3 linked regions of the Homo sapiens genome follow. The protein of the gene in region 2 interacts with the protein of the main gene of each other region in a pairwise test. Each region holds a gene or a part of one and is shown on either strand. Other genes may lie near its edges.

What was found.
Region 1: the proteins of NBL1 (region 2) and NCALD interact in binary tests that used the Homo sapiens proteins (3 or more experiments, as listed by UniProt).
Region 3: the proteins of NBL1 (region 2) and HPCAL1 interact in binary tests that used the Homo sapiens proteins (3 or more experiments, as listed by UniProt).

The regions. Positions count from the first base shown.
Region 1 is NC_000008.11:101,784,292-101,788,041, forward strand, and holds part of NCALD (neurocalcin-delta), read right to left. Parts: intron 1,762-3,750; exon of another isoform or gene 1,564-1,761; intron 1-1,563. UniProt on the Homo sapiens protein: May be involved in the calcium-dependent regulation of rhodopsin phosphorylation. Binds three calcium ions.
Region 2 is NC_000001.11:19,647,161-19,650,910, reverse strand, and holds part of NBL1 (neuroblastoma suppressor of tumorigenicity 1 isoform 2 precursor), read right to left. Parts: intron 3,302-3,750; exon of another isoform or gene 3,241-3,301; intron 1-3,240. UniProt on the Homo sapiens protein: Possible candidate as a tumor suppressor gene of neuroblastoma. May play an important role in preventing cells from entering the final stage (G1/S) of the transformation process.
Region 3 is NC_000002.12:10,417,771-10,421,520, forward strand, and holds part of HPCAL1 (hippocalcin-like protein 1), read left to right. Parts: exon of another isoform or gene 1-695; intron 696-1,963; 5' UTR 1,964-1,987; coding exon 1,988-2,365; intron 2,366-3,750. UniProt on the Homo sapiens protein: May be involved in the calcium-dependent regulation of rhodopsin phosphorylation.

The sequences.
Region 1 (3,750 bases), on a different chromosome or scaffold from region 2:
TCCTACAATATGGTGACTGGATTCTAAGGGAAAATGTCAAGAAGAAAAAGAATAGCAAGAGAGAAAAAAATTGTATTCTTTTTATGATCTATCCTTGGAAGTCACCTAGCATTATTTCCACTGTACTCTATCAGTTGGACCAATCATAAGCCCATTTAGGTTCAAAGGGAGGGGCAATAGACTTCACCTCCTGATGGAGAGGAGCAAGATTCTAGAAGAACATATGGTAATGCAGTGGCTCATGCCTGTAATCTCAGCCCTTTGGGAAGCCAAGGTGGGAGGATCTCTTGAGGACAGGAGTTCAAGACCAGCCTGGGCAACATAGTGAGACCCCAAGTCTATAAAAATAAAAACAAAAATTTAGCTGGGCATGGTGGCATACGCCTATAGTCCTGGCTACTCAAGCAGCTGAGGTGGGATGATTGCTTGAGCCCAGGTTTGAGGTTACAGTGAGCTATGATTACACCACTGCACTTCAGCCTGGGCAACAGAGTGAGAACCCATCTCTAAAAAAAAATTTTTTTAATGTGGTAATGGATTCAATTGTAAGGCTATTTTTGAATACAATCTGCCACAACATATAACATTAATTCTGGGGAAAATACAATATATAATAGTAAGTCCTCACAACATCATTGACAACAAAACCAATTATTTTTTCTCATTAACATTACAACAAAACGATGTTGAATGAAATGACGGTATTTGAGGCTCTGCTGTATATTCCAAGTTGAAAGGCAATATAGTATAGTGAATAAAGAGCCAGGACTCTGAAGCCAAATGCCTAGAGCTCTATTGTATACTTGTGTGACACTCAGCAATTTGTTTAAGCTCTCTGTGCCTCAATTTCCTCATTTATAAAACTAGAATGTTGTTAAAAAATAGTTACTTTGAAAAGAACTTTGAAGACTATCCAGCTTCCTAAGTGTTAGCTATTATTATAATACTCTTCCAATTCTGACGGATTCTTCCTGCCTCCTCGGGGGATGGTGGTGGCAGCACTACCAGAAGTAGAAGATTAATAACAGCAGTTCACATTATTGAGTACCTAATACCTGTCAGTTTCTATGCCAAGTAAATTGACTCAAAAATCCAAGAGGGATGCCCTAATATTATTCACATAAGAAAACTCTGATTTAGGTAACTTGCTCAGAGTATCACTAGCAAGTGGTAGAAACAGGCCCCTGATCAGTTTAACTAGATAGAAGGAGCCTGAGTCCCTGGAGGACTGTGTGGAGCAGAGCCCTTCGCCCAATCCTGATTTCTGGGTGAGTGAAAAATGAACAGTGTTGGATTATGCCATTAAGATTGGGGGCTATTTATTACAGCAGTGACCCTGTCCTGACTGGGTTAGTACAGGGAAGACGGGAGAGATATTTTTGGAAATATCACTAATTTAAAGACTCCTTTCATAAAATACAATGGTTTTCATTATTTGTATGAAACAGGGTATTTGCATAAAAGAAAATACTCTCTAGGTCGGTCCCTACCAGTCTCATTTGTCTTCTGAACTAGAGGACAAATAGCCTCTGGCCAACTGGGAATAGGACTGAGCATACCGACCTGGAATCCCTGACACTGATGGGAACAGATTGCTCACAAATGAGGCCGGCTGTTCACCAGCTGCAGAATGTCTCTTCTGGGGTTTCACTCTGGTGTAAAACCTAATGGTTCCCAGGTTGTTTGTCTGTTTTGTTTTGATGTTCTGTTTTGTACTGTTTCCTTTTAGAATTCTCTTTTGGACTGCAGTGGCCAGTGTGGCTGTGGGAAAGAGAACCCCAGTTAATAGTACATATAGGTCTCTGGGCAAGTTCTCTACATAGTTAGACTGCATATTCCATGATGGAAGGGACCTGCCCTGTCTTGTACCTTATAGCAACCCTGGGGTCTGGCTCAATGCCTGACACGTAGTATGTGCTCAAAATTTGCTGAATGCATGAAAGACTGAATGTTTGAATAAAAGCTCAAGCAAACAAAAGCCAGGGTCCATAAAGGCCCTTGGGTTCTCTATGCCAGCAGCATATCTCACTTGAGGATCCCATCAGGGGAGGACCTCACATGCCTACTATAATACTGTGAATGCAGTAGTCCGTTAATAAATGTTCGCCAATTGAGTGACTGTGCTGCACATGATCCATGATAAGATGTGGGAAGGTATAGGACGGGGAAACTTTTGTGAGATGCTATTTTTGATCTCCAACGATATTGTAAATATGGTCGTCACAAACCTGATCATGGTTTGAGTTATATGAATCATATCAAAGTCTGTGGGAGTCAGCAGAGCAGATAGCCAAAGAACACAACAGTTTTCTTGACATTTACCTCTAATAGATAGGGCTTAAATTCATTAAAGCAAACAAAATCCAAAATCATCTTTTAAAAAAATTCATCCTTGCATAAAAGCAATGTGCAGCCTTTGGTCTTCCTGCAGTCACTGGGAGAGATTCAGAAAATGTGAACAATCCTCCCATGAAGACAGGCAACAGCTGGAATGTCTTTCAGGCTAGAGATTTATTTCCTACAAATCAAATATAAAACTGCATTGTGACCTGAGAATATTCTGGTTTACATTAATGTAAACTAAATTTTAAAGGGATGCCGTGTCTTTATTTAAAGGCACTTATGAAAATACATGCAAAAAACCCCCTAAAGTTCACTACTGAGATAAAAAGGGCAGACTGTTTTTAGTTTGGCTCCAGTGAATTTCAATATTTATCATATAATTTTTATATCAAAATCTTAGTGAACATTAACTTTTATGGTATCACTTCTGAAAACAATAAAAAATACTACATTTTGGAATGCTATTTCTAGTTAGATTTCCATCATGAAGCACCAGTTAAATAAATGTGGATTTTATGAAAAATAATGGCACATTCCTTTTTGAAAAGTTTCAAACACCTGGCTTGAGAAGCAAACAGTACAGCCTGGAGTCAGAGATTTTAAACTTTTTCCAAGTTTCTTTATCAAGTTGCTAGAGACTCAAAGCTCCCAAGGCAAGTGTTCTTTTCTAATCCAAAGAATAAGAAACGTTTGAGAACATCTCTTTCGTAATTCCTTTGAGAACACACGAAGACAAATTGCTAAGCTTCCATTTCAAATGCGAGGGATTTGGATTGAATTTAAACAACAGCTTGTGCAAAATGTCATAGCTCCCATTCTCTTACGCGGAGACAGTGGGTGTTGATGTCATAGAAAGGATGACTTTGGACATTCTGAATATAGGGCTGTGACGGCAGCTGACCAACTGCAAAGTTACGCTGTTGGTTTGGAGAGGAATATCAGGCACTATTTTCTGCACATTTAAAGAAACATGTTGAATGAGACAACTACTTACATAAGTCACACTAAACAATACTATTAATACCCCCTGTATTGGTCTTAAATATCCAATAAGCCAAATAAGGTTCTGCATTCAGATACTTGGGAAGTGTCTCCACTTCCAGCTTAATTTCAAACATGCCTCATCCTAGAGACCTCTGTCAGATAAACCTTTAGGGCTCTCTCTTGAGTATCTGGAATTAACATGACAATTGATCAATTCACACGTGTATGTGCTTTACATTAAGCTGGAAAGCCACATGCATTCTTTAATGCTTGCTTCAAATGCTATGAGCACATGAACTACCTTCTGTGGCCCATGGTTTTAACTCGCATAACTTGTACTAACACTATGAGTTTTCCTCTTAACCCCTGTCTAACCAGGTAAGGGTTTCCCAATCCAGGGGACATAAGACTGTTGTTAATGGA
Region 2 (3,750 bases):
CAGACACACCTGCCTCCGCCCACCCTCCTGCCCAGCCCCGAAGAGCCCAGGCTGCCCCCACCGGTGGGGTGGGCTCTTGGCTAGCAGGTTTTCTTTTTTTGTTGGTTTATGCTTTTTTGTTGGTTTACGCTTTTTTGTTTTTTCAAGCAGCAACTAATCTATTTTTTTTTTTTAAGCAGCGATCGTACTTTCCTTCCTGAGCCTTGAGAGCCTCACCCAGATTCTCAACCCTTCCTCCCGCCCTGAAGGTCACACAGCAAGTCATGGGACTCCCCAAAAGCGAGGGCGGGAAGGAAAGTTGGAGATCTCCCAGCCAAGTCTCCCTGCTCTGCAAGGGGCTGTCCCAAGGCCCCCAGCAAGTCAGGCAAAGCAATGCCCTGCCCTGGGCCGTTCAGGGCCCTGCAGTTCCACACTCACTCACTTCTAGGAGGGTGGGGAGAAAGGCAAGGGTGAGGGCAGGGAGCTGGGGGCACAGACCCTATGCCCACTCAGACACTCCCCTGAGGGGAGGTCCAGGGATGTGGGTAAATAGGGGGCAGTTGTTTTGAGTTGGCACAGTCAGAGATGGCTCTCAGGAGGGAAGCAGAGGTTCTGAATTCTGAACTAAATATAAGAGCGCAACTATAGTCATGCGTCAGTTAGCCATGGGGATGCACTCTGAGAAATGTGCCATTAGGTGATAGAGTGAACTCAAACCTGAATAGTCTAGGCTATTACAAACCTAGGCTATATGGCATAGCCCATTGCTCCTAGGCTACAAATCTGGACCACATGTGACTGTACTAAATACTGTAGGTCACTGTAACACACACGGAGGCTGAGGCAGGAGAATGGCGTGAACCCGGGAGGCGGAGCTTGCAGTGAGCCGAGATCACGCCACTGCACTCCAGCCTGGGCGACAAAGCGAGACTCTGTCTCAAAGAAAAGAAAAGAAAAGAAAACGTAAAGTAGGCTAAGCATGGTGGCTCACACCTGTAATCCCAGCACTTTGGGAGGCCAAGGTGAGAGAATTGCTTGAGCTCAGGAATTCAAGACCAGCCTGGGCAACATAAGACGATCCCATCTCTACAAAAATTTAAAAACTAGCCAGGTGTGGTGGTGCATGCCTGTGGTCCCAGCTACTTGGGAGGCTGAGGTGAGAGGATCACTCGGTCCTGGGAGGTTGAGGCTGCAGTGAGCCAGGATCATGCCACTACACAATCATGAAAGAAAGAAAAGGTGTAGTAAAAATACAGTATTATAATTCTATGGGAGGCCAGGCGCAGTGGCTCACGCCTGTAATCCCAGCATTTTGGGAGATCGAGGTGGCAGATCACTTGAGGTCAGGAGTTCGAGACCAGCCTGGCCAACATGGCGAAACCCCGTCTCTACTAAAAATACAAAAACTAGCCGGGTGTGGTGGCACATGCCTGTAGTCCCAGCTACTCAGGAGGCTGAGGCAGGAGAATCACTTGAACCCGGGAGGCAGAGGTTGCAGTGAGCCAAGATTGCACCACTGCACTCCAGCCTGGGGGACAGAGCGAGACTTCATCTCAAAATAATAATAATAATAATAATAATAATTTTATGGCAGCACCATTGTGTACGTGGTTCATCATTGTGTGGTGTGTGACTGGATATTAATTTATTCTGTCCTATGATAACTGCCTGATCCTATTCTTTCCCCCATTTTTAGATGAAGAAACTGAGGCACAGAGAGGCCAAGAAATCTGCTTGGGCTTACACTGTTAGTAAACAGGAGAACCGGGATTTGAACCTGGAGGGTAGCAGGTTAACCCCCAGCTACCCTTGCAGGTCAAAAGGTTCACCGAAGAGAAAGAAGCAAGAAACGATGGAATCTGGAGTCAGGATGAGGCCTGGAGCTCCCACCACTGCCCCAGCCGACTGCGCCTCTCATTCCTGTTAACACCCTAGCGTTCAGCCACTGCCTGGACTGGAAGCTTGGGGGCTCCACAGACCAGAGTTCAAATCCCATTCCTGACTCCCTAGCCAACCGTCTTGTGGCCATGGCTGACCCTGGCTCTTGGAGCCCTGGTAAAGGTATGTGTGACACGATCCTCCCTCATGGGGGCGCCGTGAGGCTTTAAAGGAGGTGTCCTTGGCACAGGTGAGTGTCTTCCCAACCCCACCCACCCGCCACTCCCAAATCCAAGCCCTCCACTTCCTCAGCGGCCCTCTGCCAATGCCTGGTACATTCTGAGCTGCCGCCCACACAGAAAGGAAATTCCCCAGGAGGTGACAACAGCAGACCCATTTTGGCACCGTGGAAACTGAGGCACAGGTCAAGGAAGTGACCCACCCGTAGCTCCCACTCCGGGGAAGAGGGCAGGGAACAAACACAGCAGCCCTGCCCTGGTTGCTTTCCTGAAAGTCTTGGTCCAGAGGGTCCCCCAGGAAGGCCAGCTCCGGGGTCAGGCCTGTGACACCTCTTTCCTGAGATGCCTGCCAAAACTGAGACGCCGGGGCCCGGCCCTCCTCGTGTGACCCCGCCAGGTATGAGGCACGGCCTGGGCACCTGAATGTGCTCCCCACGGGACTCTGAGGCCCAGCCAGGCCAGGAGCAACGGCCTCCCAGCCCCCAGGAAAGGGGCTTCGATTAACAACGCTGCCACTGAGGCCCCCCAGCCCACTGCCTGGATTCCGGTACCTGGAAAGGCATCCTAAATGCACCCTAAATACACAGGAGTGGCCTAGATTTCAAGGAACACTTACTTCTTCCTGACTCCCGCCCACCGTGAAACCCTTTGTAGAGTGGATTAGCTTTGGTATAACAAGTGAACCATCCTCCCCAATTCCTCTTCTGGGTTAAGTCTGAATATTCAAGGTCACTCAAGGCCAGATATACCAGGATTTTCAAGGTAGAGTGTATCCACTCACCCCAGACCCACACACACACAAAAGCAGGCATACCCCAAACCACCTGTGCCCCCTATGAACGCAGAACACACAGACGCATATATAAGCATGCCTATATATGCACAAGAAAATGTACATCCGCACAAGCACGCACACACACGCGCGCACACGCACACACACACACACACGCACACACACACACACCAGGCCTTTCCTGTTACCGGTTCCAGCAACCACTCGGTGCAGAGCCGTGGAGGGCAGGGCTGACAAATCCTCGGTGGAAAGGGCAGGGCTCTCCCTCCCCATCTTCACCTCCTGCTTCCAGAACCTCCTCGGGGAACCTCCCCACACTTGGCCCCAGCTGATGGAGACGGACGATTCTACCTGTGGGCTCAGCATTCAGGTGACACCACAGTCCGCATGCACAACGAGCACGCAGCGTTTGTGGCTGGTGGCTTTCAAACCAGATGCTCCCCCTCCCCTGCCTCTCCCACCTTTCCTCTCCCCCCACACTCACTAAGGGCAGGGTCTGGCTCTCCTCCTCCATTCTCCACAATTATGACAGACTGGGGTTCAAATCTTAGCTCAGCCATTCTAATCTTTCTCTTTTTATCTTTATGTTTTTATTTGTAACAGGATCTCACTCTGTTACCCAGGCTGGAGCGCGGTGGCACAATCATAGCTCACATCAGCCTCAAACTCTGGGGCTCAAGTGATCCTCCCACCTCAGCCTCCAGAATAGCTGGTGGTACAGGCATACACCACCATGCCCAGCTAATTTTTTTGTATTTTTTGAAGAGACAAGGTCTCCCTTTGTTGACCAGGCTGGTCTTGAACTCCCACTTCAGCCTCCCAAAGCACTAGGATCACTTGGCCCCATTCTAACCTTTCTGT
Region 3 (3,750 bases), on a different chromosome or scaffold from region 2:
TTGGCTCACGGCTGTAGTCCCAACACATTGGGAGGTCAAGGTGGGAGGACTGCTTGAAGCTAGGAGCTTGAGACTGGCCTGGGCAAAATAGTGAGGCCCTGTTTCTACAAAAAAAAAAAAAATTAACTGGGTGTGGTGGTGTGTGCCCATAGTCTCAGCTACTCAGGAGACTGAGGTGGGAGGATCACTTGAGCACCGGAGGTCAAGGCTTCAGTGAGTCATGATCACACACTGCAGCCTGGGTGACAGAGTGAGAGCCTGTCTCAAAAAATAAATAAATAAAAAATAGATAGATAGATTGATTGATTGATATAGAGAGGATAAGTAAAAACAAAAACATGTATGTACTATAAAACCTGGGATGGGCTGGGCGTGGTGGCTTATGCCTATACTCCTAACACTTTGAGAGGCCAAGGCAGGCGAATCACTTGAGGTCAGGAGTTTGAGACCAACCTGGCCAACATAGTGTGAAACCCTGTCTCTACTAAAAATACATAAATAAATAAATAAATAAATAGCCAGGTGTGGTGGTGCATGCCTATAATCCTAGCTACTCAGGAGGCTGAGTTGGGAGGATTGCTTGAACCCAGGAGGTGGAGGTTGCAGTGAGCCGAGATCACACCACTGCACACTCCTCATAAGTGCCTGGAAGGGCAACACAGTGAGACTCCATCTCAAAAAAAAAAAAAAAAAAAAAAAAACAACCCTGGGATAGAGGCAGAGAAGAAAGGAAGTGGTGGGCAGTGTGGGTGGTCTGTCTTACCTTTCATAATGGAGAGCTGGTGCCTACTGTTTAGAATTCACAAACACAGAGTTCAAAGTGGTTGCCACTGTGGCTAGGGTAGGAGACATCTTTTTATTTCTCATTCTTCCATGTACTTCAAAAATTATCACGCCCTGTATATCAGTTAACTGTTAATGTAAGAAAATAACATGAGGTGGTGCAGTGGCAGCCGTGTGAATGCCGGTTGATCAGTCTTGCATTCAGGACTTGTGGAGAACCGCCCTGGGGGATGGTTTTGAGCAGAGCAGTTCCTCGTTCCCACAGGTGCCTCATTTTTCCCTGGTTCCATTCAGAACATCATTTACTGCCTAGAGCTAATTCCAGATCCTCCTCCCACCCGGGGCAGTTTATCAAAGGCAAAATAAAGAGGGTGGGCCGGGGACAGTGGCTCACACCTGTAATCCCAGCACCTTGGGAGGCCGAGGCAGGTGGATCACCTGAGGTCTGGAGTTCGAGACCAGCCTGGCCAACATGGTGAAACCCTGTCTCTACTAAAAATACAAAAAATTAGCTGGGCGCGGTGGTGCATGCCTGTAATCCCAGCTACTCAGGAGGCTGAGGCAGGAGAATTGCTTGAACCTGGGAGGCGGAGGTTACAGTGAGCTGTGATCCTGCTACTGCACTGCAGCCTGGGCGACAAGAGCAAAACTCCATCTCAAAAGAAACAAACAAATAAACAAATAAAGAAGGTGGGTGGGGGTGACTCCCTGAAAGTTTCTAGACGCCTCTTCTAAAGATAAAAACATAATGTGATGCCTGAAAGAGGGAAGAACTGCCCCAAAGAGTCTGGGATGTGGCTGAGGTGGCCACTTTGCCAGGAGCTGATGAGGGGGATGAAAGTAAGAACTGATTTTAATCTTCGCCTCTCGTACAACCCCTGGTGGGCACCGGATGATGCCCTGTTCCACTGATTTTAAGTTGCATTTTCCCCCCCGCATTTCCACATTCTCCAAGTGAGAACGTGTCCCGCAGTGTGAGGGTGAGCTGTCGTGATATAATTAGAGTCTCTTGGCCTTCTTGGTGGTCCATAAGATAGCGGCATGCCTTCCGATGGGGGACCCGGGAGTTGCTGAGTCGCAGCGCTTGCACAGCGATGGGCTTATTTGGTCTCTCCGGCACATGGCTCAGCCCTGCTCCGTGGCCGTGGGTGGCGTCCCCGGCTGACCCCCTGTCTTGCAGGTGTAGTCGCCGCCGCCAGCCGCCATGGGCAAACAGAACAGCAAGCTGCGGCCCGAGGTGCTGCAGGACCTGCGGGAGAACACGGAGTTCACCGACCACGAGCTGCAGGAGTGGTACAAGGGCTTCCTCAAGGACTGCCCCACCGGCCACCTGACCGTGGACGAGTTCAAGAAGATCTACGCCAACTTCTTCCCCTACGGCGACGCTTCCAAGTTCGCCGAGCACGTCTTCCGCACCTTCGACACCAACGGCGACGGCACCATCGACTTCCGGGAGTTCATCATTGCGCTGAGCGTGACCTCGCGGGGCAAGCTGGAGCAGAAGCTCAAGTGGGCCTTCAGCATGTACGACCTGGACGGCAACGGCTACATCAGCCGCAGCGAGATGCTGGAGATCGTGCAGGTACCGGCGCCCGAGGCCCCGGGTCTCACCGCGGGCCCAGGTCCCCTCCCAGCTCCCAGCCCCCAGCCCAGGGCTTTTTTTTTTTTTTTTTTTTTTAAGACAGGAATCTTGCTCTAGTGACTGGAGTGCAGTGGCACTATCTCAGCTCACTGCAACCTCTGCCTCCTGGGCTCAGGTGATTTTTCCGCTTCAGCCTCTTGAGCACCTCCATGCCCTGTTAATTTTTTTGGTATTTTTGATGGTAGAGAGAGGGTTTTGCCACATTATCCAGGCTGGTCTTGAACTCCTAGGCTCAAGCGATCTGCCCGCCTCAGCCTCCCAGAGTGCTAGAATGACAGGTGTGAGCCACCGTGCCTGGCCTCCCTGTGTTCTTTATGTTCACTCGACATTGGGTCTTTCTTGGCCAGGTTGCTACCTGGTGCACTTTGGAAAGTGAGCAGTTGTCACCTGATTGGGCAGACCCTTGCAAAGGGCAATGGTAAAAGCCAATGTTTATTGATCACTTGCTATACATCAGGGCCGGGTGGAGCACTTTGATCCGTTTTCATCTTCATAACCCAACAACGTGGGTCATTCTCTGCATTTTACAAAGTCTGAGACTCAAATAGATGAATTTCTAAAAATTATATTTTATATATATTTGGAGATGGAGTCTCACTTTGTCGCCCAGGCTGGAGTGCAGTGGCATGATCTCGGCTCACTGCAACCTCCACCTCCTGGGTTCAAGAGATTCTCCTGTCTCAGCCTCCCATGTAGCTGGGATTACAGGTATGTGCCACCGCAGCCAGCTAATTTTTGTATTTTTAGTAGAGACGAGGTTTCACCATGTTGGCCAGGCTAGTCTTAAACTCCTCACCTCAGTTGATCTGCCTTCAGCCTCCCAAAGTGCTAGGATTACAGGCATGGGCCACCGTGCCTGGCCAAGAATTGTATGATTGCTGGGCTCCTTGGCACTTGCAAGAGGTACCTGCCAAGACCTGGGGAAAGCCCTGGATTTGAGAACTCAACAGATAGCTTGTGATGTCCCCAGGAATGCGCAGTCATCAAGTAAAACTGAAGCATTAACGATCACGAGAATCAGCTCAGCACGGGAAAGACGTCACTTTAGGAGGCATCTCTTCACCTTCATGCCTATCAACAGCTCTAGCAGAAAGGCCATGTTTCAGAAGGAAACCAAGTTTTGTTCACTTGGCCAGGTGCCTAGGTATGCGAGAGAGAGTAGAGAGCAGAGCTGCCCCTCCCTGGCATTCCCCTGAGTGCCTCCCTGAGCCCAGGAGCATCCAATTCTAGAACTCATGGCCAGGCCTGTAATCCCAACACTTTGGGTGGCCGAGGCTGGAGGATCGCGTGAGCCCGGGAGTTTGAGACCAGCCTGGGCAATATAG